6 separate regions of the Homo sapiens genome follow, and all the other regions are reported to be linked to region 2. The links are microRNA targets in miRTarBase. Many come from high-throughput screens and were not tested one by one. Region 2 holds a microRNA gene; each other region holds the end of a gene's coding sequence. Distances are between the middles of the regions.

Region 1 (4,072 bases), 16 Mb from region 2:
GCTGAGCTAAAGAAGGGCTGAAGCTCTGGCCCATGGTGGGAGGGACACATTCCCTGAAGCAGCTGAGCCCCCTGGCACGGCTTCACCAAGGGGACCCTGGCCCTGGGGCTGGCCCACCCCCTGCCTCTGTTCCTTCACTTCAAGCCCTGTGGGCTGGGAAAGGGGTCGGAACACGTCTGGAGCAATGGTGCCCAGATGGCACTCTACACAGGTGAGTGGGAACTCAGCCCCTGGACGTAACCCCCTTTGGTTTGAAATCTGGGCTCCATCACTTGCTAGCTGATTGACACCAGGCAGATGACATCACCTCTCTGTGCCCCAGTTTCCTCACCTGTCTAACGGAGCCAAGAACGTCCTAACTTAGAACTGTGTTGTGAGATCAACAGGACGGTGCCTGTGCCACACTCAGTGCAGTGCCAGATGGCAGGACAAACACGGGCTCCATCGTGGTTATCAGCCAGGAGCAGCTCAGGATGTGACTGGGCCATGTCTGACTCCTCTTTCCCTGTCTGCTTGGATGTGCTCAGGGGCAGCAGAAGATAGGAAAAGCGGGACCCAAACAGTGGTGCTGGGGAAATTTGTTCCTGTTCCCTTTGGAAGGCTGAGTGGGTGATGCAGCACAGGAACAAGGCTTGGACGTCAGAGGTCTCATCTTCACTGTGACAAAGCATAAAGGACTTGGGGTTGAGCGTGTGTGTGGGCTCAAGTGACCATGCAAGTGCTGTCACCTCCTTCCTAAGACCCCATCCTTCTCCCAAGTCCTCCACAAGAGCTACCTTCTTCAAAACAATAACAGAAACACATCAAGCTTGGCGTCACTGAAATTGAAGTTCTGAATTCTGCCGTCACCCCAGCAACAGTGCCAGTATGATGAGACACTTGACCCAGCACTTGGGTTGATGTCTTTGGCTGTTACCGTGGCAACCTAGGTCTCAGCAGGTCTGGCTGAAGCCCGCCATTGCCTTTTCTTCCAGTGGGATTGTACTGGAGGGGCTGGGCAATCTATTTATGTTCTCGAAATGGAAAGCAGGATCTGGGCGCGGGAGGCAATGCAACTTGGAGTAGCTTCCATGGCACTGAGCCCCCCGGCCTGCAGCTCTTGCATCATGTCTCAGGCTAAGTGGCCTCAGGGAGTGGAGATAGGGAACAAAAAGGCAGGCAAAAGGTACAGTGCCCACTTGAGCCAGGGAGCATGCAGCTGCTCAGACACCTGGTAGGTGACTAGCAGGGGAGGGACACCTCAGCTCTCCATTCTGCCGAAGCGCCCAGGGATCATAACCTCCTCCCCGCACTTCCTGGGGTGGGGATGCCAAGATGTTTGGGTGTTGCATAAAGGAAGATGTTCAGGTGTCATGTTGGAAAGCATCTGACCTCGCGGATGTCTACCTGCTTAGGTGTAGACTGAACTCAAAGGTCTTCAGGGGCAGGCAACATGGAGGGGGAAGAACACTGAAGAGGGAGTCAGATGCCCTGAGCTCTAGTCCTGGCTCTGCCCCATGCTCTGTGATCCTGTGCAGGTCACGTGTCCTCCCTGAACTCTTCCCCATTTCTCACAAGCAAGATGCAGCTGTGGTGCCAGATGGGGTGGCTTTTCTCATCTTTAAGATTATTATTATTTTTTTGAGATGGAGTCTTGCTCTGTTGCCCAGGCTGGAGTGCAATGGCGTGATCTCGGCTCACTGCAACCTCCACCTCCTCAGTTCAAGAGATTCTTCTGCCTCGGCCTCCCGAGTAGCTGGGACTACAGGCATGCACCACCTAACCAGCTAAGTTTTGTATTTTTAGTGAAGATGGGGTTTCACCACGTTGGCCAGGCTGACTTCGAACTCCTGACCTCAAGTGATCTGCCTGTCTCAGCCTCCCAAAGTGCTGGGATTACAGGCGTGAGCCACCGTGCCCGGCCTCTCAGCTCTTAAGATTCTGACACTCTCTTGGGGAAGCTGGTGATGACTCAAGGGGACCAGGAAGCCATCAGCCCTTTGAGACACTCTCAGACAGGCAAGGGTGCCAGGCTGGGTTGATCCAAAGGGAGCTGGTTTTTTACAATCCATGCATGAGGTTAGTCTGCCTTGAACCTTGCCCTGGACTCTGAGTCTCTGCTGACCCTAACCCATGACTGGCTGCATCCCATCCACTGCCGAGTCCTGGGATCTACCCCTGCGAAGCCCAGGGTCACCAGAGCTTTCCCCACATATCCACCTGGAATCACAGAGAAGCTCACACCCAATCTGGAGAGCAAATGACCAAAGCGAGGGCCTCAGCTCACGAATGAGGAAGGCCAGGCCCAGAGAGGGCAGGGACTTACAGAAGGCCACACAGCACATTAGCAGGGCTGGCTAGGAACCAAGGTCTTCTCCCTCTCACCCAGTGCTCTGCTCACTGCTTCATGCTTCTCCCCACCCTCTGAGCTTCTTCCTTGCTGCCCCAGGACCATGCACAGGGTAGGTAATGTGGCTCTGCCAGAGGTGGGGTCTCCTGGGCCATGAGGCCTCTACCTTAGGGCTGCTCCCAGCCCAGGCTGAAGCGGTCCAAGTCCTGTCCTTGGCATGGAGGGAGAGCGATGACTATACCAGTGGCCATCACTATGGGTGAGCACAAGGGGTGACTGCAGCCCTTTGGCCTCCTGGGGTCTTTGTCCCCTTCCCTCCAGGCTGGAGCTGGGAAAGGAATGTCCTGGAGACTGAGGTGGGGCTGGGCCAGGCATGGAACCAACATTCAAACCGCTACACACAAAGAGAGGAGGAAAGAGGAGGAAGAGGGAGGCATGGGTGGGGGGGGGGGGAGGCTCCATCGAGATCCCACTGCCCTTGACTGGCAGCTGGTGGAAAGAGGGAGGAGGGTAAGTCTAACCTCTGATGTCCTCGTCATCCCCTTCTACAGCCTGTTGTGGCCCTGAAGGGGAAGCCACTGGGCCTGTTGCATGGGGGACAAGGGGGCGGGCGGCCACCCCCACCACTGAGATAGTGGGGTCCCCCTCATACACAATCCTACCCTACTGGGGGTGCTGTCAAAATTAGTGAAATCAGATACAGTTGATGGGCAGGGAGGGTGGGGTAAGAGACAACTCCAGTGCAGTGCCAGGTGGGCAGGCTCCCACTGTTCACTTGAGACGCTCCTCCCCACTCAGGTGGGGACAGGGGACACACTCGCAGGGCAGGGCATTCTGGAGGTGTGGGTACAGGTGAGGGGAAATGGGAGGCACAGCCAGGAGTGGGGCAGGAGGGAAGGCCAGTGCGTGGGCAGGCTGAGGAGGGAATATGACCCCCCTCAAGTCCCCAAAGTGGCAGGCAAGGGAGGGGCCCTGGATGAGGTGGCCCCTCATGCCTTGGCCCTCCCCTTGCAGACATCGAAGGCAGCCTTTGTTGCACCCCCAAAGGCCTCCACCAACTTGTCTTCCCAGGGAAGGACGTTGCCCAGCAGTGGCGCAGTGCAGTTGGCAATGCCCAGGACCTGGGCTGGTGTCAGGGCGTGGTCCCACAGGTTAAACTGGGCAATGTCACCGACAAAGGCCTGGGTGGCATCAAACCGGCCACCCAGGGTATCCTGGGCCAAGACAGCAGCAGAGAAAGGAGAGGCATGGAGTGAGGGAGCAGAAAAGACAGGCAGGCTGGCTCAGTCAGGCTCTTGTCCCCGAGGCAGCCCCACCTTCAACCCCACTGAAGCCCCACCGCCAACGCTCTAGCCCCACCTTCAAGATTCTAGTTCCTTGGGCAGGTCTCTGATCTCTCTGGCCCTCAGTCTGCCCATCTGCACAATTAGGAGGTCCAGCCCCAATATCAGCCTGAGCCTTACCTGCTCCTGGCCCAAGATAAGGATCCCATGAGGCTTGATGGGGTGCCAGGCAGCCAGGTTCTCACCGGAGCCCTGCAGCTCCCCGTCCTGGTAGGCAGACCATAGGCCATCCCTTGTGGTCCAGGCGATGCAGATGTGGTGCCAGCCATTGTCCTTCAGGCTCAGGGGCAGCTGGGCCACCTGGACACAGGTCCCCCAACCCCAGGTCAGAGGTGCCCCAAGGCCCAAGGCCCATGGCTGAGGCAGTGGGGTGGGGCTGGGGAGACCCATGTCCATCCTT
Region 2 (4,086 bases):
ATCCATAGGACATCAGTGTGAACCCAGGGAGAGGCGCTGGTATAAGAGAGATGAGAACACAGGTGTGAACCACCTGCTTGTGCAGGGGACTGAGCCTTCACTTTGAGCCAAATAAGTTTTCTTTCCCAAGTTCGATCCTGAACAAGAGGGCTTTCTGGACTTCTTTTTGTTTTCAGGTTTGTGCCCCTTCAGGTTTGGGGCTGTCTGGAGTCCCAGCCAGGGGACAGTGAGGAAATCCAGCAGTCTCACACTGACTCTGTTGTATTTCATCTGCTGGGGCCATCCCAAACTGCTGCGTACCATTTCCTTTCCTGGTGCTCAAATAGCTGCTCCATGCACTTGTCATGGTTTTATAGCTCAATCTAGATGGGAAGACAGGATAGTGTATGTTACAATATTTAAATAGAACCTGAATCCCTTAATAGTTATTTTAATATGGAACATTAAAAGAGTTGCATCATAGGCAATGGGGAAAGATGAAGAAAGATTAAACGCATTTGGAGGAAAAACTAAAAATGTCTTTATTGAATGTCTGTGTGTCTTCAGTGTCGAAGGGTTGAGAGAGGTCAGCTTTAGGTTGTCCTGAGGATGTGCTCAGATGGGGGAAAGTAAGAAAGCCGGAAACGTGCATCTCTGTGACCTGACACATAAATCACAGTAAAATGGAAGTAAATCTTTCAATAAACCTTTCAAGATAACATCACTCTGGTGCACATAGAAAGGCCTGTTAGCAAACTTTCCCTTTTCCCTGCTGGCTCATATCCCCATGGATCACCTGTATGCAGAACGGACTCTGTGGTCTCCATTTATCAGGCTGAGAACCAGAGGCTGGGAAGGACAAGTCACCTGCTCATGAGTGGGAGGGGCAGGATTGGGAGCAGCGGACTCAGGCTCAGGACTGTGGCCCTGGTTGGTGCTCCTTGTTCCCTTCACAGGGTCCCACCCACATGTGCCCGTGTGGATGTGGGTGCACTGCCTGGGGTGGCTGATGTGCTCCAGGGATTTGATGGTGCAGATGCTTCAGGACAAAGCATGGGAGTGGGGATGGGACGAGGCTGCCGCTGGGCAGACCAGGGACCAACGCCACCCAGCAGAGGCTTCCAGTGGGGTTGGGCAGCCCCATTTCCTGAGAATAGAGAGAACCTGGCAATGAGTGCCAGAAAGAGGTTACTTCGAGGTGTGCCCAGGCCTGGAGGGTCACAGAGACACAGGCACCACACAGCAGAGACACTGAGGGCCAAGAGCTCACTCAGGTGAGGGGCTTCAGCAGATTTTTCTCTCCTGAGCAAATCACGTGCAAAGAAATCAACTTCCTGTCATCAGAATAGACAATCAGGGACTTTAGTCTCCTTGGCTGAGCCCCGCTGTCAAGGGAAGCAGAAGTCTCTAAGCCCAGGCCCAAGTGAGGGTGGGGTGAGAAGAGGAGCTCAGGATGCAGATTTGCATGGAGGTCCCGCCCTTCTCTGAGGCAGAGGGGATAAGACAGGGCTGGGGGCAGGCCCAGTGCTGGGGTCTCAGGAGGCAGCGCTCTCAGGACGTCACCACCATGGCCTGGGCTCTGCTCCTCCTCACCCTCCTCACTCAGGGCACAGGTGATGCCTCCAGGGAAGGGGCCACAGGGACCTCTGGGCTGATCCTTGGTCTCCTGCTCCTCAGGCTCACCTGGGCCCAGCACTGACTCACTAGACTGTGTTTCTCCCTTTCCAGGGTCCTGGGCCCAGTCTGCCCTGACTCAGCCTCCCTCCGCGTCCGGGTCTCCTGGACAGTCAGTCACCATCTCCTGCACTGGAACCAGCAGTGACGTTGGTGGTTATAACTATGTCTCCTGGTACCAACAGCACCCAGGCAAAGCCCCCAAACTCATGATTTATGAGGTCAGTAAGCGGCCCTCAGGGGTCCCTGATCGCTTCTCTGGCTCCAAGTCTGGCAACACGGCCTCCCTGACCGTCTCTGGGCTCCAGGCTGAGGATGAGGCTGATTATTACTGCAGCTCATATGCAGGCAGCAACAATTTCCACAGTGTTTTAAGTCAATGAGGAAGTAAGATCAAAACCTGCCCTGGGCTCTCAGGCCCCCTTCTTGCTCTGCAGATGCTTCCTCACGCTGTATAAGGGTTTCCTGCAGGATGGCCTTGACAATTCTCCTCTCTCAGCTCCTCTCCTTTCCCACCATGAGGTCTAAAAGGAAACCTGCTCGTGATTTCTCGTTCAGGACTGTGGCAACTTCCTTTTGCTTGTGTGCTCTGGTCCCTTAACGTGCAACTATTCCTAGCTCTTCAATGCAGGGACGTAGGGACAAGGAGTTTACTGCTTGGTGCAGTCCCTCCTGTTTTCAGGAACATCCTCATTCTAAATGCATCCCCCATCTGTCACACTATGCAGATCAATCTGGACAGAAGCCATCAGGGGGATGGCTTCCAGTTTCCAGGAATTGCATCTTGTTCCACTCTGTGTCCACCACGCTCTAATGAAGATGGCCCTCCTAGCTTAAAGTGACCACTTTAAGAAGACTTGAAGATGTTTTTGAGGGATTAAGAACAAAGAGGATGCTGCTGTTTTTCTTTTTATTGCTCCTGCTCTTTGCCGAAATTCCTCAGGTTGCTGAGCTGGGGAGATTTTGAGTGACAGGCTCAGTGCTCTCGCAGAATTCTCCTCCCCTCACATCGCTGAGGCCCTGTCCTGGAAACTCCTCACAAGTGGACGGTCTTCCCATAGGATGGGGGATTCCAAAATGGCTCCACAGGAAAGAGTTAACCTGAGTCCACCTCCCTTCCTCATGGACATCGAGCATTTCTAATTTTCATGGCTGTCAATACTTTTGTACCTGGAATCCCTAATAATCTAATGGTGAGAATTGATTTAGAACACATTCGGACATTAGCTGGGTCCAATATTTAAATTTTCTGAGCCAGTTGTTAAATACAGCTATTATCATATATAGTTTAGGCTCCTTAAACTTCGATTATACAGATTATATTTAAAACAAAGTAACTAGTTTACTATATATATTTACAAAGTAACTACTATATAACATCATGTTGTGTACCTGAAATATAAACACTAAAATTTATTTCAAAAACCAAAGTGTATTGTCTATTGATGCATAAAAAAACACTCACAAAACTTAGCACACTAAGAGAACACATGTCTGTGACCTTGTGACTTGGATGCACCTAGAATTGGGAGTAGCTTAGTTTGGTCATTCTCGCTCCTGGTTAATCACGAGGTTGCAGCCAAGCTGTCAGGCCAGGCTGCATTCAGGCTACATCTGCCAAAGAGGTTAGGAACTGTGGAAGCCTCCCTCTGGCTGTGGAAGCCTCCCTCTGGCTGTGGAAGCCTCCCTCTGGCTGGGAGACTTCCGCAGTTCCTAACCTCTTTGGCAGATGTAGATCATCTCAAGGATAAAGGAGAGAGTGGAGTGAAGGCCCCTGTCCTTGTCCTCCATGTAAAAGACCATCCCATGCATGCACTATTTTTTATTCTTTGCTGAGACATCCTAGGCATAGAGCACTGCCCCATTCATTCAAAGGTTGTAGAGTATTCTATGGTAGAATTTTAGCCAACTCACTTTTAATGGTTATTATCACTATTTTGATCTTATAAATAACACTGCAGCGAACATCCTTATGTAGACTCCTTTGATTTTATATGTAGACATGACCATAGAATAAATTTCTAGAAGTCAAATTGCTGAGTCAAAAGGATGTGTGCTTGTAATTTTCACTCACTGTCCTCAGATTCTCCTCTAGAGGGGTTATCTACAAATTCGCAATGTCAGCCATAAATATTCGAACAGAGTACACTGGGGAAAGTTTAAATGTTTTTCAACCTAGCAGATTTAAAAATGTTATCTTTTTTTAGTTTTGATTTCTCCTGTTCTGCTTGAAGTTGAGCATTTTCTCTAATACTTCAGTGCTATTTATTTTTATAATTTGGTAAACATTTTCTTAAATGTCCAGATAAGAAGGATTTTGGTCTGTGGTTCCCAAGAGTCAACTTTGAGGATATTCTGTAGGTATTTTTAGCACCATTTATAGTGTAACCATTTAAACCTATAAAAACCACTCTCAGCTCTGGGGCCATGGAA
Region 3 (4,086 bases), not on the chromosome of region 2:
AAATGACTAGAAAAATCTAGTAGGACTATGGGGCTGAGACTACATTTGAAGCTGATAACCATGGATTCATAGTGATATAAATCTGCTCCACAGTTGTTTCCTGGGGTGGCATTTAGCTGTCCAAATGCAGGTACAGACAAGTATCACTTTATTTAAGGGTTCAAAAAGAGATGAAAGGCAAGGAAATTCAGCCTATTGCACGAAAACCACTAGTTTAAGCTATACAGGAATCTAAAGAAGGAAGGGACTAATGGAAAGCAGAAGCATTGGCTGCAGTGAAATCAGAGAATGATAGAGGGAATAGTTCAATAAACCAAGTGGAAGGAATATGGTCAATAAATAAGATGCAAGTATTTTGAAGATGGAGCAATTTGAGGTGATGATAATGGCCAAGATATGACAAACGGAGTGAGTGGCCAAGACAGAGTGGAAATCATCAGAGATTGGGCCAAATAACTAGGAGACAAAACACCAAATGAATTGTCTATGTAAATGTTAAAATATCAAGGAGTGGACAGGAAGACCAAGGGCTAGCTATTTAAAGTAGCAGGAGAGTAGTAGTAAATGAGAGTGGTAGACAAGTAATCAGAGGGTTGTATGGATGAACAGCCTCAAAAGAATGAGGCTTTGCAAAGGAGTGGGCAGTTCTGAAGCCACAATGGCAGGAACAACAAAGTATCTCCAACGTTTACATTTATGATAACATGATAAAGCTTGTCAACATTTATTCTTTAGTGTTGTGCTTGGAACATCACATTGCTCCGATTATGCCAATGGCTATCACTTTATGGTAAAACCTGAGGAAGACCAGATTATGGAAGGTAAAGTGGTAGGAATAAGGTTTTTCTCCTGAACACTGAACATATTTATAAACAGGAAAGAACCAGGACAAGAGATTGAAATTTTAAGAAAGGGATTAAGAGATGGGTCAGACTGAGGGACATTTGTTTTTTCATGCCTAGAGGCAGGTTAAGTACAGATAGAAGCTCTCAAAGTTCAAAGAGCAAAGGCTTTAGAATCAGACAGATCTATGCTCCTAGCTCTTCTTTAGCAATTACTATTGTGTGACATGGAAGGACGGGAAGCACAGATAATTCACAATGGAAGTTTATTGCAAGGATACACACAAATGTTGATGTGGAAGGGTCCTCCCACCAGCAGCACAGTATCACAGGTCCCATCCTCCTATCTTCTGGAAGTTAAGAAGTTCAAACCTGTTTTACTTGCATTTATATTTCCCAAGGACAGAGTGCCACCCTGTGGGTAAGGTCCTAGTCAGCAACTTTTACCTTCCTAACAAACTTTTCTGTTCAAGAGATAGCAGCTAAAGGGGGCAAAAAACATGATTGGAACCACTTTTCTCAATAAGAAACTTTGTATAGGCCGGCCGTGGTGGCTCACACCTGTAATCCCAGCACTTTTGGAGGCCGAGGCGGGCGGATCACAAGGTCAGGAGTTCAAGACCAGCCTGACCAATACAGTGAAACCCCGTCTCTACTTAAAATACAAAAACAAAATTAGCTGGGCGTGGTGGCGCATGCCTGTAATCCCAGCTACTCGAGAGGCTGAGGCAGGAGAACTGCTTGAACCCGGGTGGCGGAGGTTGCAGTGAGCCTAGATCGCTCCACTGCACTCCAGCCTGGGTGACAGAGCGAGACTCTGTCTCAAAAAAAAAAAAAAGAAGCTGTGTATAAATGTTTGCACGAAATCTGCAGAATGTGCCTTCTGGCACATTCTGGATTCTTGCTTCCTCATCTGTTAAGTGAGGTTAATACCTCTTACTTATAGTTGTTGTAAAGATTAATATAAAGCATGACATCTACCAAAATCAGAACCTACACAAAGTGTGTGCTCAATAAATACTATCTTAAGAGGCAGCCTGCTGTGTAAAATGAACATGGACTTTAAAGTCAGATCTGCACTTTAATACCGGGTCTGCTACTTGAGAATTTCAATTTTCTGCTCTGTAGATAGGATAGAACATCTGCTTTGTAGGTAGTTGTAAGAAGTTTTAAAATTATTACTGTGGAAACCAATGTCTAAGAGCTTCAATTTCTCTAAAAAAGGAAACAGGGTCACCTGATGAGGGTGGGGTATGGGATTAAGGACAGCAGTAGAGGTGTAAAATAACTGCCATGGTAATTAGAGAAGGAAATGGACCAGGAACCCATAAAGGTGTGTGTTGGTGTGACTGCGTGTTGGTGTGAGGACTTGGCTGAGGTTGGAGGCCTTGAATATTTAGTGGCATTCATTACACAACTGTTTTTCTCTAGCAGTTTGAATGAAGGAATGGAAAAGACAGAATAAGTGGAATGATACAAAAAGATGGCCAATGGTGGCAAGAAAATGGGGTGATGGAATGATATGCTATCCAGGCTGCTGAATACAGAAGTAAATTACACAAAGTTGGGGGGCGGGGGAGGCAATAATGAGAAAAGAATGGAGAGGCTGGAATTAGAAATCACAGAATGTACTCAATGGGACCAATGTGGGGCAGATGATAGAAAGCTGGATTTAGGAGTTTCTAGACGAGCAGTGAAACATTAACGTAGCATTAAAGAAGTCCCGAAGATTTAGTTTTATCCCTTTTTATCATAACCATTGCCATCTACTTCTCCCTTCAGTTTCTCTTCCTCGGATTTGGCTGCATTGCAGAATATGGTCCCCAGCTCTCTCCCTTCCTGATTGCCCGTGAAGACAACCACACAGACCTTTGTTCAAAGGTTTTACTGCTCATCCTGAGAAGACTGTACATACTAAGAAAGTAACAACCTGGGGAAATGGCTGAAGTTCCAAAAGACTCCAGACTTCTTACAGGTTTCATCTCTCTTCTGTGGCCACTAACTTCCCAAGGAGGCAGTGCCCAAAAGCCCTGTGGTTTTTTGATCCGTTGTACTTCGATAGCTCCTCCTTTCCCTAGATCCAGCAGAACTCTAGACATGTAAGACATAGTTCACAAAACAACAGTTATGAACCAACAAATACTTGGCTCACGGTTATGAGCCACTGAAGTCAGTCAGACTTAAGGACAACTAGACAGAGCTCCCATTTTCTGTCATCTGGGCAGGAACCAATCTCCTGTTGTATAAAATGACCTTCTGGTACTTTCTGGAATCTTGCTTCCTCATCTGTTAAGTGAGGCTAATACCGCTTACTCATAGTTTTGTTGTGAAGATGAACTAAGAGCATGACATATTACCCGTTTTAAAATTGTACACACAGACCCTGCTTTAACCAGATGCCTGCAAATGCTCAGGTTTTCCTTCTACATATAGAAAACAATTTCTCAGCTGCCAGGGCTGAAGCCAGCAGATATGCACTAAACGACAGAACAACGGATTGTGCCAATAAAGTAGGCAAAGCTTCCTTGCCCAGAATATAAATCAAACTGAGTAAAAACTGGGTATATTGGCTCCAGGAAAAGGAGCAAGGACACCCAGCTTTCAGGCAACCTCGAATTCTCTCTGTTTAGGATTCACCAACCCCAAGGTCCACCGGGTCCTTCAATCTGAGGGTCCATCCAAGGCCTTCCTTCCTGGGGTTGGGTATGGCTAGCTGCCTGATGGAGAGACCCCAGGCTGTTCAGCAGCAACGCCTGGCACAGCCGAGGCAGCCTCGTAGTCTGCGATGCGGCGCTGTACCAGGGCAGGCATGAGCTGCACGTAAGCGGCCATGAGGCGGTGGTTGGAATGGATCAGCTTCCCAGCACAGCTGTGCAGACAGGCCTCCTAGAAGGAAGATAGGGTTTAAGTGGAGGATAAAGGTGCCCTGTCGGGTCCGCCTCCTTTCTTCCCCATGCCCAGCCTAGGGGTGAGGGTCGTGGGAAGGCCAGGGCCAGAGGTACGGGAAGTGGGGTGAGGAGGGAAGCAGTCTACCGCTAAACTCTTCTTGCAGCGTAACCTCCCTACACAGTTCCCCACCTCCTCAGCGTCCAGAGCTCGGTGGTGCAAGCTGGGCACACAGCGCTGGAAGCAGAGTTCTGTCATCCGATTGTAGACCAACAGGAAGTCACGCAGCTGAGAGAAAAGGGGGACCACAAACTCAGCGATAAGGGCCCCACACTTCTAGTCAAGGTCGCGCCGCCCA
Region 4 (4,075 bases), not on the chromosome of region 2:
CAGGCTGTGGGGCAGCGCAGCACCAGCACTGCAGCTGCCAGCTCTCCCTCAGCTTCCCCTGCCCGGGGCACCGGCCCTCTCCATGGTGCTGCCCGGAGCCAAGAGGCACAACCATTTCTGCTCAATAGCTTCTCCTCTTCTTTCTCTCTCTGCTCTCTTTAGCCTTCCCAGTAGACCTTTCCCTCTTTGGCACAGTTGGAAACTGCAGTTGATAAATGACTGTGGACTAGTGCGCGTTTTTTGTTTTCAGAGCACACGTAAGGTAAATATCTTCCCTCTCCCTGCCCCTTCACTTCCCTTTCCTGGCCCTTCAGCTGAGGGAGGAGCAGAGCCCATGGCTCCCCAGGCTGGGGGGCATTTTTCTCCAGGGGTGTGGGGTGGGCGCTCCCTTCCATCCTTCTGGAAGACAGGAGGGGTCATGAGACTCCTCCACTGTGGAAAATGGTGCTTCCTTCCAGCACAGGGTGCTGTATCGTCCCGGGAAGGTGCCTCTTGTTCAGCATAATGACCTGGGACCCTCGGGGCCAGAAATCCACAGCCCCAGCTTCCCCGTCTCCCAGGGAAGGCATCTGTTGGCTGACCATCTGCTAACCAGTCGCTCCTGTTTCTGCTCTGATACTTCCCAAGGCATCCCGAAGCACCTGTCTTAGCTGCCCCTTCCTGTCCCACAGAGGATTTGGCACTTGGTTTTGACAGGATACTTTACCAGCTTTGATGTTAATTCTCCTTCCCTTGTCTCCTGTAGGGTCCAGCCACAGCAGGCCCGGCGTCCCGGTGGAAGGCAGCCCTGGGCGGAACCCAGGCGTTTAACGGCTCACTAGGCAGCCCCAGATCTGGGGAACAGATGAGCACGTGGGGAGCTGGAGTGAGCTGAGCAGAAGTTTTGTGCCCGCCTGCCCCCATCCCCTCCAGGCCACGTTTTAGATGGCCCTTGTAGTTGCGGGTCCTGGGTGTCCTCAGAACTAGACATCAATGCCTGGATCCTTCAGCCGGCCCTGCCCTCCTTTAGGAGACAGGAGTCACCAGGGCACAGCCCTCCAGGCCCGCCTCAGGAAGGAATGAAAGGAATGCCATCATCTCTAGTTCCCAGGGCCCAGCCTTCCCCTTCTCCCCCGGGGCAGGGACAGTGCGGCATATTCAGATTCAGACCTCTTTGGGCTGAGCCACCTTGTGAGTGCAGTTACTGCCTTTGTGTGGCCGTGACCTCTATTTGTTTGCTTTTAATTTGCCAACCTATCGCTGCTGGCAGCACTTTTTGAGCAAGCCGAGAGCACCCATTTTGGCTGGGGGTTCAGATCGATGGCCTTGTCCATGTTGTCCTTTCTGGCTTCCCTGATGGTGTCATGTTTCAGCGCATGCGCCCCAGCCTTTCCCATGTGCCAAACCAGAAGCTCCACTGCCCGTAGGCTGTCCCTGTAGCCCTGCTCCCTCCCTGGAGGCTGCTCTTCTGATTCTGAGAGCTGGCCTAGTGGTGCTGAGGGCCCCTTTCTGCTTCTCTGCCCACCTGCTGAGTTGCCACTCGCAGTGTTGTCAGTTCCCGTGTTCTGAGAAGAGGTCATGCCTGGGAGGAAGGGATCGTCATGCTGCATCGAATCCTCTCTCCGCCGTGTGGCCCCCAGGAGAGTAGCTGCCTGTTGCACCTGCTCCACACCTCCCCACAGCCTCCCTGCAGGTGCTGTGTGGCCGTGATGTGCAGAGAGCAGTGAGGGAGGGTTCATGAACCAGGTGGATCCTCTTTAAAAAAAAAAAAGTTTTTGTTATATCTCTAGAACATTTCAAGTCTTTTCCTTTTTTTCTGTTCCTAGCTATGGGGTTTTAGAGAAGTGGGAACAGGAAGGCATTTGTCTTTTTCTTCTAGTTTACTACATTTTCCTTCCGTAGTTCTTCAGCTGTGTGGAAACGGGCATCACAAGGACATAGGATCATAGATTGGGTAGGGAGGGAGGAGGATTTCTGGAACTTTTCTCAAAGGAATTTGGACCCTTATAAATGGGACTGAAGGTCAAAACAACAGTGATATCCTTGCTTAGAAATTGTCCTCAAGGAATAAACTCTGAGAGCAAGCCCGGGTTGGAAACAGATGCTTTAAAATCCTCTCTCCAGAACAGTGGTTTTTTGTTTGTTTATTTGAGATGGAGTCTCACTCTGTCACCCAGGCTGGAGTGCAGTGGTGAGATCTTGGCTCACTGCAACCTCCACCTCCCAGGTTCAAGCCATTCTCCTGTCTCAGCCCCCTGAGTAGCTGGGATTACAGGTGCCCACCACCACACCCGGCTAATTTTTGTATTTTTAGTAGAGATGGGGTTTCACCATGTTGGCCAGGCTGATCTTGAACTCCTGACCTCAGGTGATCTGCCTGCCTTGGCCTCCCAAAGTGCTGGGATTATAGGTGTGAGCTAAGATCAGGGATTCTTAACCTTGGCTGCACACCAGAATCACCTGGCAAATTAAAAATACGTGGACCTGCCACCAGAGCTTGTGATTTAATCAGAGTCGGCATCAGAGTTTTCAATTTTTTATTTATTTATTATTATTATTATTATTATTATTATTATTGAGACAAGATCTTGCTCTGTCGCCCAGACTGGAGTGCAGTGGTGTGATCACGGCTTGCTGCAGCCTCGACCTCCCTGGTTCAGGCCATCCTGCCACCTCAGCCTCCTGAGTAGTAGGGACTACAGGTAGGCACCACCACACCCAGCTAATACTTTTAATTTTTTTTTGTAGAGATAGGGTCTCATTATGTTGCCTGGGGTAGTCTCGAACTCCTAGGCTCAAGCGATCCTCCTGCCTCGGCCTCCCAAAGTGTTGAGATTATAGGCGTGAGCCACCGTGCCCAGATTCACAGAAGTTTCATACACCTTTCACCCAGGTTCCCCTAATGTTAACAGCTTACATATAACCTTGGTACATTTATCAAAACTAAAGGTGCAATCATACTAATAGCTAGAGTTTATTTGGATTTTACCATTTTTCCCAATGTCCCTTTTCTGCTGCAGCAGCCAATCCAGGATGCCATACTGCACTTAGAGCTGTTGCTTTCTTTTTTCCTAACTTTATATTTTGAAATAATTTCAGATGATAGGAAGTTGTAAAGGTAAGGGCCCCACGCACCCTTCATCTAGTTTCCCTCCATGGTTACATCTTATATGGTTGTAATGCAGTATTCCAACAAAGACTCTGACACTGGTGCGATGTGGGTGGACAGTCCAAATCATTTGTCACATGTACATCTGTGTAACTACCACTGCAATCAGGATAAAGAAGTCCCATCCCCACAAGGATCTCCCTCCCCACCTTCCCTAACTCCTGGTAACCACTAATCGTTCATCTCTTCTTATTTTGTCATTTCAAGAATGTTGTATAAATGGGAGCATAGTGTGTAAGCATTCGGGATTGTCTTTTTTCACTCGGCGTCATTCTCGGGAGATCATCCAGGCATTGCATGTGTCAACAGTTTGCTCCTTTTTATTGCTGAGTGGTATTCCGTGGTGTATGCATTGGCCCCCTGAAGGACACCTGGGATGTTTCCAGTTTGGGGCTATTCCAAATAAAGCTGCTACGACTATTCATGTACAGGTTTCTGTGTCAGGATTAGTTTTCGAGGAGTGTAAATGCTTGGTCATAGGGTTGTTGCATGTTTCGTTTTTTAAACAATCAAACTTTTTTTTTTTTTTTTTGAGACGGAGTCTCACTCTTTTGCCCAGGCTGGAGTGCAGTGGCGCAGTCTCGGCTCACTGCAAGCTCTGCCTCCCGGGTTCATGCCATTCTCCTGCCTCAGCCTCCCCATAGCTGGGACTACAGGCGCCCGCCACCACGCCCGGCTAGTTTTTTGTATTTTTAGTAGAGACGGGGTTTCACCATGTTAGCCAGGATGGTCTCGATCTCCTGACTTCGTGATCTGCCCGCCTCAGCCTCCCAAAGTTCTGGGATTACAGGCGTGAGCCACCGCACCTGGCCACAAACTGTCAAACTCATGTCCTCACCGGCAACCTAGGATGATCAGTTTCCCTGAATCCTCCACAGCACTTAGTGGTGTCCACATGTTTTTACTTCAGCCGTTCTGACAGGTGTG
Region 5 (4,086 bases), 8.5 Mb from region 2:
TGCCTGTAATCCCAGCTACTTGAGAGGCTGAGGCAGGAGAATCGCTTGAACCCGGGAGGTGGAGGTGAGCCGAGATAGCACCACTGCAGCCTAGGTGACAGAGTGAGACTCTGTCTAAAAAAAAAACACCAAAAAACAAAAAACCAGAAACTATCACTGGGAGCTTAGGAGTAAAGTCTGAGGACAAGGCAGACCTCAGTTTGAATCCTGACTCTTCCACTTACTATGTGACCCAGGGGAGTTCCTCCATCCCTCTGAGCCTGTTTCCTGCAAGAGGGGGATGATAATAGAATAATGAAACCAACCTTATAGGTTGTGCAGGGGATTAGCTCATGATGATGGTTTCTTTTGGTCTCCACAAAAGACCTGATCAGGAAACAGGCTCAGAGATTTAGGGATTTCCCCAAGGTTGGCAGAGAGCAGATGATGGAGCCGAATAGCCAAAGCTCAGGTGGTTCTTCCTTTTTTTTTTTTTTTTTTTTTTTAGCGTTAGGGCCTCACTCTGTTACCCAGGCTTGAATGCAGTGGCGTGATCATAGCTCACTGTGACCTTGAACACCTGGGCTCAAGCGATCCTCTTGCCTTAGCCTCCTGAGTAGCTAGGACTACAAGCGGGCACCACCATGTGCAGCTGTTCTTCATTTTTTGTAGAGATGGAGTCTTCCTATGTGGCCCAGGCTGGTCTCAAACCCCTGGCCTCAAGTGATCCTCCTGCCTTAGCCTCCCAAAGCTTAGGCTGCCAAGGGAGCAGTGCTTTGGAAGATGCAACAGCCTGCTTGCTCTGTTGTTCCCCTCCTGCCATGTGACAGATACTCCTTTCTAATACCTGTGGTCCCTACCTGTCCATGGACATGCTCACAGGTCTCCAGGGAGCAGAACTAAAATGCGTTCAGGAGCTCGGGCTGGCCCAGTCAAGTCCTTGGTTCAAGGCCAGGTTCTCTTAACACTCAGTGGGTGTGACCAGATTCTGTGGTGGTCACAAAGCTACGTGTCCACAGGGCCTCCACATTCTAGGGTCACCCTTTCCTTTGATACTCACATCTAATGGCCTAAGCCTCTATTCCACACAGTCTGCAAAGCCCAGCAGCTTACCAAGGATTTTGTGTAAATGGCTTAGAATTGTTTTTTAAAAAATTCAGCTGAGAGTCTTTACCTTTACACCAGAACAATGTAATTCTAGGCAGGGTGCAGTGGCTCACGCCTGTAATCCCAGCACTTTGGGAGGCCCAGGCAGGCAGATCACCTGAGGTCAGGAGTTCGAGACCAGCCTGGCCAATGTGGTGAAACCCCGTCTCTACTAAAAATACAAAAATTAGCCAGGCATTGTGGTGCATGCCTTTAATCCCAGTTACTCCAGTTACTCAGGAGGCTGAGGCAGGAGAATTGCTTGGACCTGGGAGGCGGAGGTTGCAGTGAGCCGAGATCACACCACTGCACTCCAGCCTGGGCAACAAGAGCAAAACTCCGTCTCAAAAAAACAAAAAATAATGTAATTCTGATACCAATGTGGGTCTAAAAATTTTTGTGCTGTTTGTTCCCCTAGGTCTGTTTTTCTCTCCTTTACCATTGTTTTGTTTTCTTCTTGCTTGGAGGTTAAATGCTGTCTCTATCCTTTTAGGGGTTTCCCTCTTCCCTGAGATTTCTCAAGATGCCCAGGGTGCCTTAAGTCTGCCTGTCCCTTCTTGTTCCTCATTCTTATTCCTATTAATTCTCCATCGTGCTTACTTCTTGCCTCCTGTTTGTTGTTCTTTCCCTCTTTTCTTCATACATTCACCATTAACGGTGCACCAACCTTTTACTTAACATCAGGTAGATAACATGGTGGGGGAGACAAGTTGCTGAGCTTCTTAGAGCCCCTTGGCCATGAGGAGTCCCTGCCCACATCCCTCCTCAGGTGCTAGCTGGGTAGGCTGTGTCAGATCCCCTCTATAAGCCTTCCCTCCCAGAGCCCCAACCCCACTTCACACCTCCCTGGTCCACCCTACTCACCCTCCTGCTGTCACTGTCCCCTCACCTTGCCCAGTTCTTCTCCTTGTATTTCTCATTATCTGAACTCATATTTAAGTTGTCTGTCTATCCCATTAAGCCTCACAGTGGTGTCTTGTTCACCACCATATCTCAAGAGCATGAAACCATGCCTGGCACACAAGCAGTGAAGACAAGCAGTGGATATTTGTTGAACACATGGGTGAATTCTGGCATTCTAAGTCTTCAGTGGGACCATCTACCTGTCAATCCCAGTGGAACTGGTGCAATGAAGTGGAAAAGGGGTCTCCTGGGATCCCACTCCCACCCCAGGTGCTGGGGTATGGACTGCCCACCTCTGGGTCCCAAAGACCCCCACAGCTGAAAAACTGGACTCAAGGGAGCAGATAGAGTAATGTACTAACATTTTTAATACAGTCTGATCAGATCAATTCACATCACAAGGTCAACCTGGGCTTGCTCACATGTGACACAACTGAGGTACACAATGTCCCTACCTGCCGGCTGTCCCACCTTCCTGGTTCCCAACAGCATTGAAACCCCCTACTTCCCTGACCAGACTGGCATTTTTTAAAATTTTGCATAAAACTATTTCTTCCATAGACTTCAAACAATCAACTAGCCAAGTTAATTATGGTACATCTAAACAAAGTTTAATACTAACCCTAATGTGTGACTGCGGTTTACAAAGAGCTCTGTATCACCTGGGATAGCTTTCAGTAGCAATTCACTACAACTGGTCCTAAAAAATAATAACAATAATAATAATAATTAGAGAATTAAAACCCAACAGCATGTTGAATGGTTAAAATCACGTAAGAACTGAAATTTGGGGTGGGGGTGTCCTCAACAGCTGAGCTTGTCCTAGCAGTGAAAATGCTCGCCTCCAAGCAGGGCTCAGAAAGGTCTGGAGCCCTCCAGGCAGAGGGCTGAGCTCAGGGGGCTCTTGGAGGACACTCACCCCATGGTCCATGGGATGCTTCTGGCTTCCTTAAAAACAGTTGGGCATCCGCATTGTATAAGTAGGTGGAGACCCTAGTGTGGTTCTTTTGAAGGATATGGGAAGGGAGGATGACGAACTAGAGAAGTGGGAGGGGACCAAAATCACTGAGGTCCCAGAATATCATAGATTTGGGTATAGGATTGGGGTCACTAAGAATTGAGCACCAGGAATTCCAGCTTCTTCCCATTAAAGAAACTGGGACTGGTTTTGCCTTGGAGGCCTATGTAGTGTTTTCTGCCCCTGTCCCATACCAAGTCTCATTGATATTTCTGCAGAATATCAGATGAAAATCTATTTCTAAAGACCATTGGGAGAATGGGTGGTGGAGAAGGAGTTGGAGTGGGGTTGGGGGGCAGTTAAAAATGAATAAAAATCTCTCAGCTACAGAACCCAAACATCACTTCCCTCCGCATTCACAGCATTTCCCAGCAGTCCCCAGATGGTTGTTTCCGTGGGGACACAGCAGCTGCCTCATTTCCCTTCAGGCCCCATGGGCTGCTGGTCAACCTCAGGATCTACTAAAGATGACGCAAATGCCGACTGAACAATCTGAAACCCAAAGGACTCGAGGAGAGACATGTTCTGCTGAGGAGAGAAAGGTGAGCCAAGGGCAGGGCCCAGGTCCCCCAGGGGGCCCCCGAGAGCCCGGACATGCACCTTCTGGATGTGTTTGTTCAAGTAGGACTTAGAGCGGAAGAAGCTCCCACATTCAGGGCATGGGTACTTCTTCTCCCCATCAGACTCCATTTTGTTTTTGGGGACTGCCATGTCGCAGGAGAAAGAGCCATTGGCACTCTGCTTCTCTGGCGTCTTCAGGTCGCTGGCATCTGAGAGGTCACCATAGGAGTCAGAGCTCTCAATCGGATCCTGATGTGAGCATTTCTGGCCTTCTACGAAAAAACAAAATATAGGAGAGCGATGAGGCCAGGCTCTGGAGATGCCCCCTCCTGGAGGGGTCATGAGGGGCCAGCTCACAGACCTGTGGAGGGCAGCCATTGGCCAGCCACTGCCCTGGCAGAACCCACGGAGGGTCAGCTGGTCAGTCTGGGAGCCTGGAGTGCCTACAGGGGTGAAACGGCAGGGCCCTAGGGCTGCCA
Region 6 (4,084 bases), not on the chromosome of region 2:
TGCTAAAACGTCCCTTTTTTTTTTTTTTTTTTTTTTTGAGACGGAGTCTCGCTCTGTCGCCCAGGCTGGAGTGCAGTGGCGCAATCTCGGCTCACTGCAAGCTCTGCCTCCCGGGTTCACACCATTCTCCTGCCTCAGCCTCCCAAGTAGCTGGGACTACAGGCGCCCACCACCACGTCAGGCTAATTTTTTGTATTTTTAGTAGAGACAGAGTTTCACCATGTTAGCCAGGATGGTTTCGATCTCCTGACCTCGTAAATGTCCCTATTCTTGATCTAAATCTTTAGGGAAATGAGTCATGAAAGTTGAGCCCCTACCATGTAATATTTTCTCCTCTTTGCTTGTGTTGAACATCCCCACAGGCTCCCTGGAGCAGCTCCTGCTCCTGGCACCCCAGGCTTCTGCCCTGGAGCCACACTGACCCATGGAGCCCCTCATCCTGCTGCCTCTGGTTCATCTCTGCTGGGATGCCAAAGTGCCCCTCGGCTCTCTGTCTTGTCATTCCTCACCCGTGTCCTCTTCTGGACCATCGCGGCAAGGACCAGTGAGTCTTTCCTGAGGTGGGTGCAGTGACCAGGATGGCCAAAGAAGCCGCAGGGAGGTGCGCCCCCAGGGCATGGCTGGTGGAATCCTGTTGTGTTAGCGCCCTTGGCAGCCTGAGTGTGAGGAGAGCATGGCAGCAGCCAGAGACCCGCGTTCTGGGTCTGACTCTTCCCCTCTGTGGGCCTCAGTTTTTCCATCTGTAAAGTGGAGGGAGGTGGCTTGGAACCCCTGGATGGTTGCTAGGCAACCTTCCTGCACCAACATCCTGGGGACCTTTCTGATTGATGCTGAGGGAAGGGAACTGTCTTGAACTCCCTTTGGCAGAAGAAACTGGCCCAGCAGCTTAGGCAATGGAGCAAGATGACTCCAGGGCCCTTCCTCAGACCTGACTGAGAAAACAGAGCCCACTAGGCACCAGCTTATGGAGGAGACTCACCCCTGGGAGAAAGCAGGGCTTCAAATCAGGCTGCCCACGAGCTGCCTGCGGTGATGAGGGACATGGAGACCCCTCTGGGCCTCTGGAGGGCCCTCATGGAGACCCCTCCAGAGGCCCAGAGCCCAGGTGACAGGCAGCAGCCTCCTGGAGTATGTTTCTGCCCATCTCTGGAAAAACCCAGGTAGGCACTGGTGGGAAGAGAGAACATGCATCCTCCTGCCCTCCGTAGCTGCAGGCCCTGGCAACAAGCCTGGAGGCTCAGCCATCCTCCTTGCTCAGGGGGACTCTCCTGCCCTAGTTCTCAGCCCTGCCTCTCCACCAGCTCCTAATTCTGGGCTGAGCTAGGAGAGCAGGTAAAGGCCTAGGGATCCCTGCAAAGATGCACAGCATGGGGTCTCGAAGACACTCCAGAGAATAGGACCCAGTCCTCACAAGCGCAGAGCAGACCCCCTCCCGCCCCCACCCCCACCCTTCCACTCTTCACTCTATCCCCAAAGCATTAAAGGACAAGACAGGTACGATACTGATAGAGAACATTCTCTACAAAAGTGGCAATGAGCCTGCAGGAGGGATTCGGGGTACAGTGGTGGGAGCACAGAGCCTGCTCCACCCCAGCACCAGAAGAACCAGGAGGGGCTGCGGCAGTAAACGGACGAGGAACAGGAGAGAAGGGGCAGCACCTGGGGCTCTGGGAGAAACAAGTCGGCACTTGGGGGTGGCCCCAGGCTCAGGCCCAGAGAACAGGGAGAAGAGCTGTGGTGGGCTCCAGATGGCGGTGGCAGGCAGCCAAGCCCTCAGTGTCCTGCAGTAGGACAGGGACCATCTCCTCCATGCCCCCTACTCTGGGCACATGTGTGGGAATGGGAACCCCCAGACAGACCAGAAAGAGGCCTTTGAGGGCTCTCTTTCCCCTGCCCCAGCCATGGGGGCCCCAGGAGATGCTGGGGGCTGAGGCCATGCTCCCAGCAGGAGCTGCTTCCCAAGCTGAGGTCAGGGATGGGGGGCCATGGCTGAGAAAGGAGGAGAGCACCTCTGCATGGGGTGCAAAGGGGCGCACACGTGTCAGCGGGCTCATCAGGGACTCTCCCACATCTGTGACCTCAGTCTGGCTGGAGAGCTTTGGGGGCATACGTCAGAGGACACATGCTGTGACCACCCTCTGAGCTGGCCTTTCCCCTGGTCTCACCACCATCAGAGGGCTGGGACACAGGTGAGCTCTCTTACCCCCGATCCACGCAGAATCACGCAACAGCCCAGTCCCTACCAGACCTGGAGGGAAACCTACCAAACACCACCCAACGTGAGTGTGCACACACGCACACATGCACACACACACACATGCATGCACACACACACATGCACACACATGCATGCACACACACAAACACGCACGCGTTCACGTGCACACACACGCACACATGTATGCAAGAACACACACACCCAAGCACACACCCGTGCTCACACATACCACATACTTACACACACATGCATGCACACACGCATACATGCACACAAACATGCACACGCACACAGCCCTGGTGACCTGGGGACAATCTGCAGTTTAGAGGATCCACTTTCTCCAGTGTCCACATCGCAGGACTTACCCACCCCAGGCCTGACACCCAGCCACACCCTGTTCTGCCTGTCCCAGGCCTGGGAGACTGAGGAGGTTGGCGGACACCTTTCTCTAGCCCAGCGCATGCCTGCCAGGCCTGGGGGCTATAATACTGCAGCCCATTGGTCTAGCACCTTGCATCTAGCGCCCTGGCCCTCTGGGGTCCCTGGGGGGCCAGGCTGCACAACGAAAAAGGGGGAGGTTGGAGGAAGACAGGCCAGGCTCCACCCCTGGATGAGCTGGGAAGGGCGTCAGTACCCCCACCCCACCCCAACCCGGCTTTCCAGCTCCGGGCCTTGACCACTAGGTGAAGGAGGGGGAGCTGGCTATGCTTGGGATGGGGTACAGACTGAAAGTTGGGGCATTTGGCTGAAGAGTCTGGCTGAGGAACTTCCCCTCTGGGGTGGACGGGAGGAGGGGAGGCAGCCCAAACTCTTCCCTTCACAACAATGCAGGAAGTGAGCAAGTCTCTGGCCTGAGCACAAGAGAACAAGACCATCAGGGGAGGGGTGGGAGAGGCCACGGCGCCCGGGACAGGTGCACCCTCCCGCATCCACCTCCCACACTCTCATCCAGTTCCGATGCCCCTGCCCTCCCTCTGGGGCAGGCCTCCCCCAAGTCTACATGTCCTTTACGGCTGCTCAGAATGGGTGGCTCAGGGCCTTCAAGACCCCTCAGAACTGGAGTTCCGGAACATTCTCTTGCCCCTCTGGTGCCTCCAGGCCACACCCTCAGCTTCAAGGTGCAGACAGACTTTCAAAGGAGTCGCCCCAACTGGTCCTTGCTCCTGGGGAAGGGGGCTGCAGGGCTGGCAACTGTGAGGACCTCGAGACCCCACCATAGGTTGTGGCAACTTGCAATTCATTTTGGTCTGGGGAGAGGAGCCCCCGGTTATCTGTGGAGGAAGAGACAGAAAGAAACAGATCTCACATGAGGCCCTCCAGAGGCATCATTTTCACCCAGGGCAGCCATCTGGACAACTTAGCCTCCCCATCTCTCGGCAGGCCAATTGTCAGGGATGGGGGACGCCAGCCTATGGGTGACCTCCCCATCCCCAAAACTCTGAACCAGCCTGCCTCCCCACACCCATCCCTGCCCCAGCCATTCAGGATAACGGCCATAGATACCTAAGAGGAAATGAGGACAAAGTTTGTTGGGCCTGTGGGATGCCATTGGGGAGGGGCCAGGGCAGGGGCTGGCCACAGCATGACCATTGTGGTGGCAGCCTTGGGCAACTATGACGGCCTTTGGAACATGAACTCTGCCTCCAGGGCTGCTGCTGACCCTCTTGGGAGCATTTGCCCACGTTCCTGATTGCAAAGTTCAGGAACAGTAGGTAAAACATCTCCCTAAGGCCAGGCGCGGTGGCTCACGCCTGTAATCCCAGCACTTTGGGAGGCCAGAGTGGGCAGATCACTTGAGGTCAGGAGTTCGAGACCAGCCTGGCCAACATGGCAAAACCCCATCTCTACTAAAAATACAGAAATTAG

The links. Region 2 holds the annotated microRNA hsa-miR-650 (AGGAGGCAGCGCUCUCAGGAC, at 1,517-1,537, shown strand). A microRNA usually pairs through its seed, bases 2 to 8, with sites in the 3' UTR of a target mRNA and lowers its output. Matches are read on the target gene's strand: a 7mer-m8 pairs with bases 2 to 8, a 7mer-A1 pairs with bases 2 to 7 and ends in A, and an 8mer does both.
Region 1: miRTarBase lists NPTXR as a target of hsa-miR-650. Seed matches in the 3' UTR shown: 7mer-m8 at 3,195-3,201, 7mer-m8 at 2,759-2,765 and 7mer-m8 at 1,043-1,049.
Region 3: miRTarBase lists TIMM10B as a target of hsa-miR-650. Seed matches in the 3' UTR shown: 7mer-m8 at 2,853-2,859, 7mer-m8 at 2,419-2,425, 7mer-A1 at 2,223-2,229 and 7mer-A1 at 1,422-1,428.
Region 4: miRTarBase lists CNNM3 as a target of hsa-miR-650. The part of its 3' UTR that is shown has no 7-base or 8-base seed match.
Region 5: miRTarBase lists PATZ1 as a target of hsa-miR-650. Seed matches in the 3' UTR shown: 7mer-A1 at 3,203-3,209.
Region 6: miRTarBase lists USH1G as a target of hsa-miR-650. Seed matches in the 3' UTR shown: 7mer-m8 at 3,013-3,019.

Annotation. Positions count from the first base shown.
Region 1 is chr22:38,819,291-38,823,362 of GRCh38, forward strand. It overlaps NPTXR (neuronal pentraxin receptor), which reads right to left. Exons shown (of 5, transcript NM_014293.4): 4 at 3,793-3,972; 5 at 1-3,543. The coding sequence ends at 3,319. Among named protein-coding and RNA genes, the nearest start is that of NPTXR, 23 kb to the right of the region's middle.
Region 2 is chr22:22,821,275-22,825,360 of GRCh38, forward strand. It overlaps MIR650 (microRNA 650), which reads left to right and starts at 1,502; the gene lies at 1,502-1,597. LOC105372948 (a long non-coding RNA gene) reads right to left here. Exons shown (of 4, transcript XR_938047.2): 4 at 1-362. It also overlaps IGL and IGLV2-8.
Region 3 is chr11:6,481,687-6,485,772 of GRCh38, reverse strand. TIMM10B (translocase of inner mitochondrial membrane 10B) reads right to left here. Exons shown (of 3, transcript NM_012192.4): 2 at 3,921-4,016; 3 at 1,092-3,728. The coding sequence ends at 3,552. Among named protein-coding and RNA genes, the nearest start is that of TIMM10B, 2.2 kb to the right of the region's middle. RefSeq lists an enhancer at 3,650-4,086.
Region 4 is chr2:96,831,807-96,835,881 of GRCh38, forward strand. It overlaps CNNM3 (cyclin and CBS domain divalent metal cation transport mediator 3), which reads left to right. Exons shown (of 8, transcript NM_017623.5): 8 at 746-3,576. The coding sequence ends at 810. LOC124907859 (a long non-coding RNA gene) reads right to left here and starts at 2,583. Exons shown (of 2, transcript XR_007087143.1): 1 at 1,505-2,583; 2 at 1-833. RefSeq lists enhancers at 490-1,689, 1,352-1,971.
Region 5 is chr22:31,323,431-31,327,516 of GRCh38, forward strand. It overlaps PATZ1 (POZ/BTB and AT hook containing zinc finger 1), which reads right to left. Exons shown (of 5, transcript NM_014323.3): 5 at 2,374-3,879. The coding sequence ends at 3,461. Among named protein-coding and RNA genes, the nearest start is that of PIK3IP1-DT, 9.9 kb to the right of the region's middle.
Region 6 is chr17:74,914,588-74,918,671 of GRCh38, forward strand. It overlaps USH1G (USH1 protein network component sans), which reads right to left. Exons shown (of 3, transcript NM_173477.5): 3 at 1,496-3,489. The coding sequence ends at 3,486. Among named protein-coding and RNA genes, the nearest start is that of USH1G, 6.6 kb to the right of the region's middle.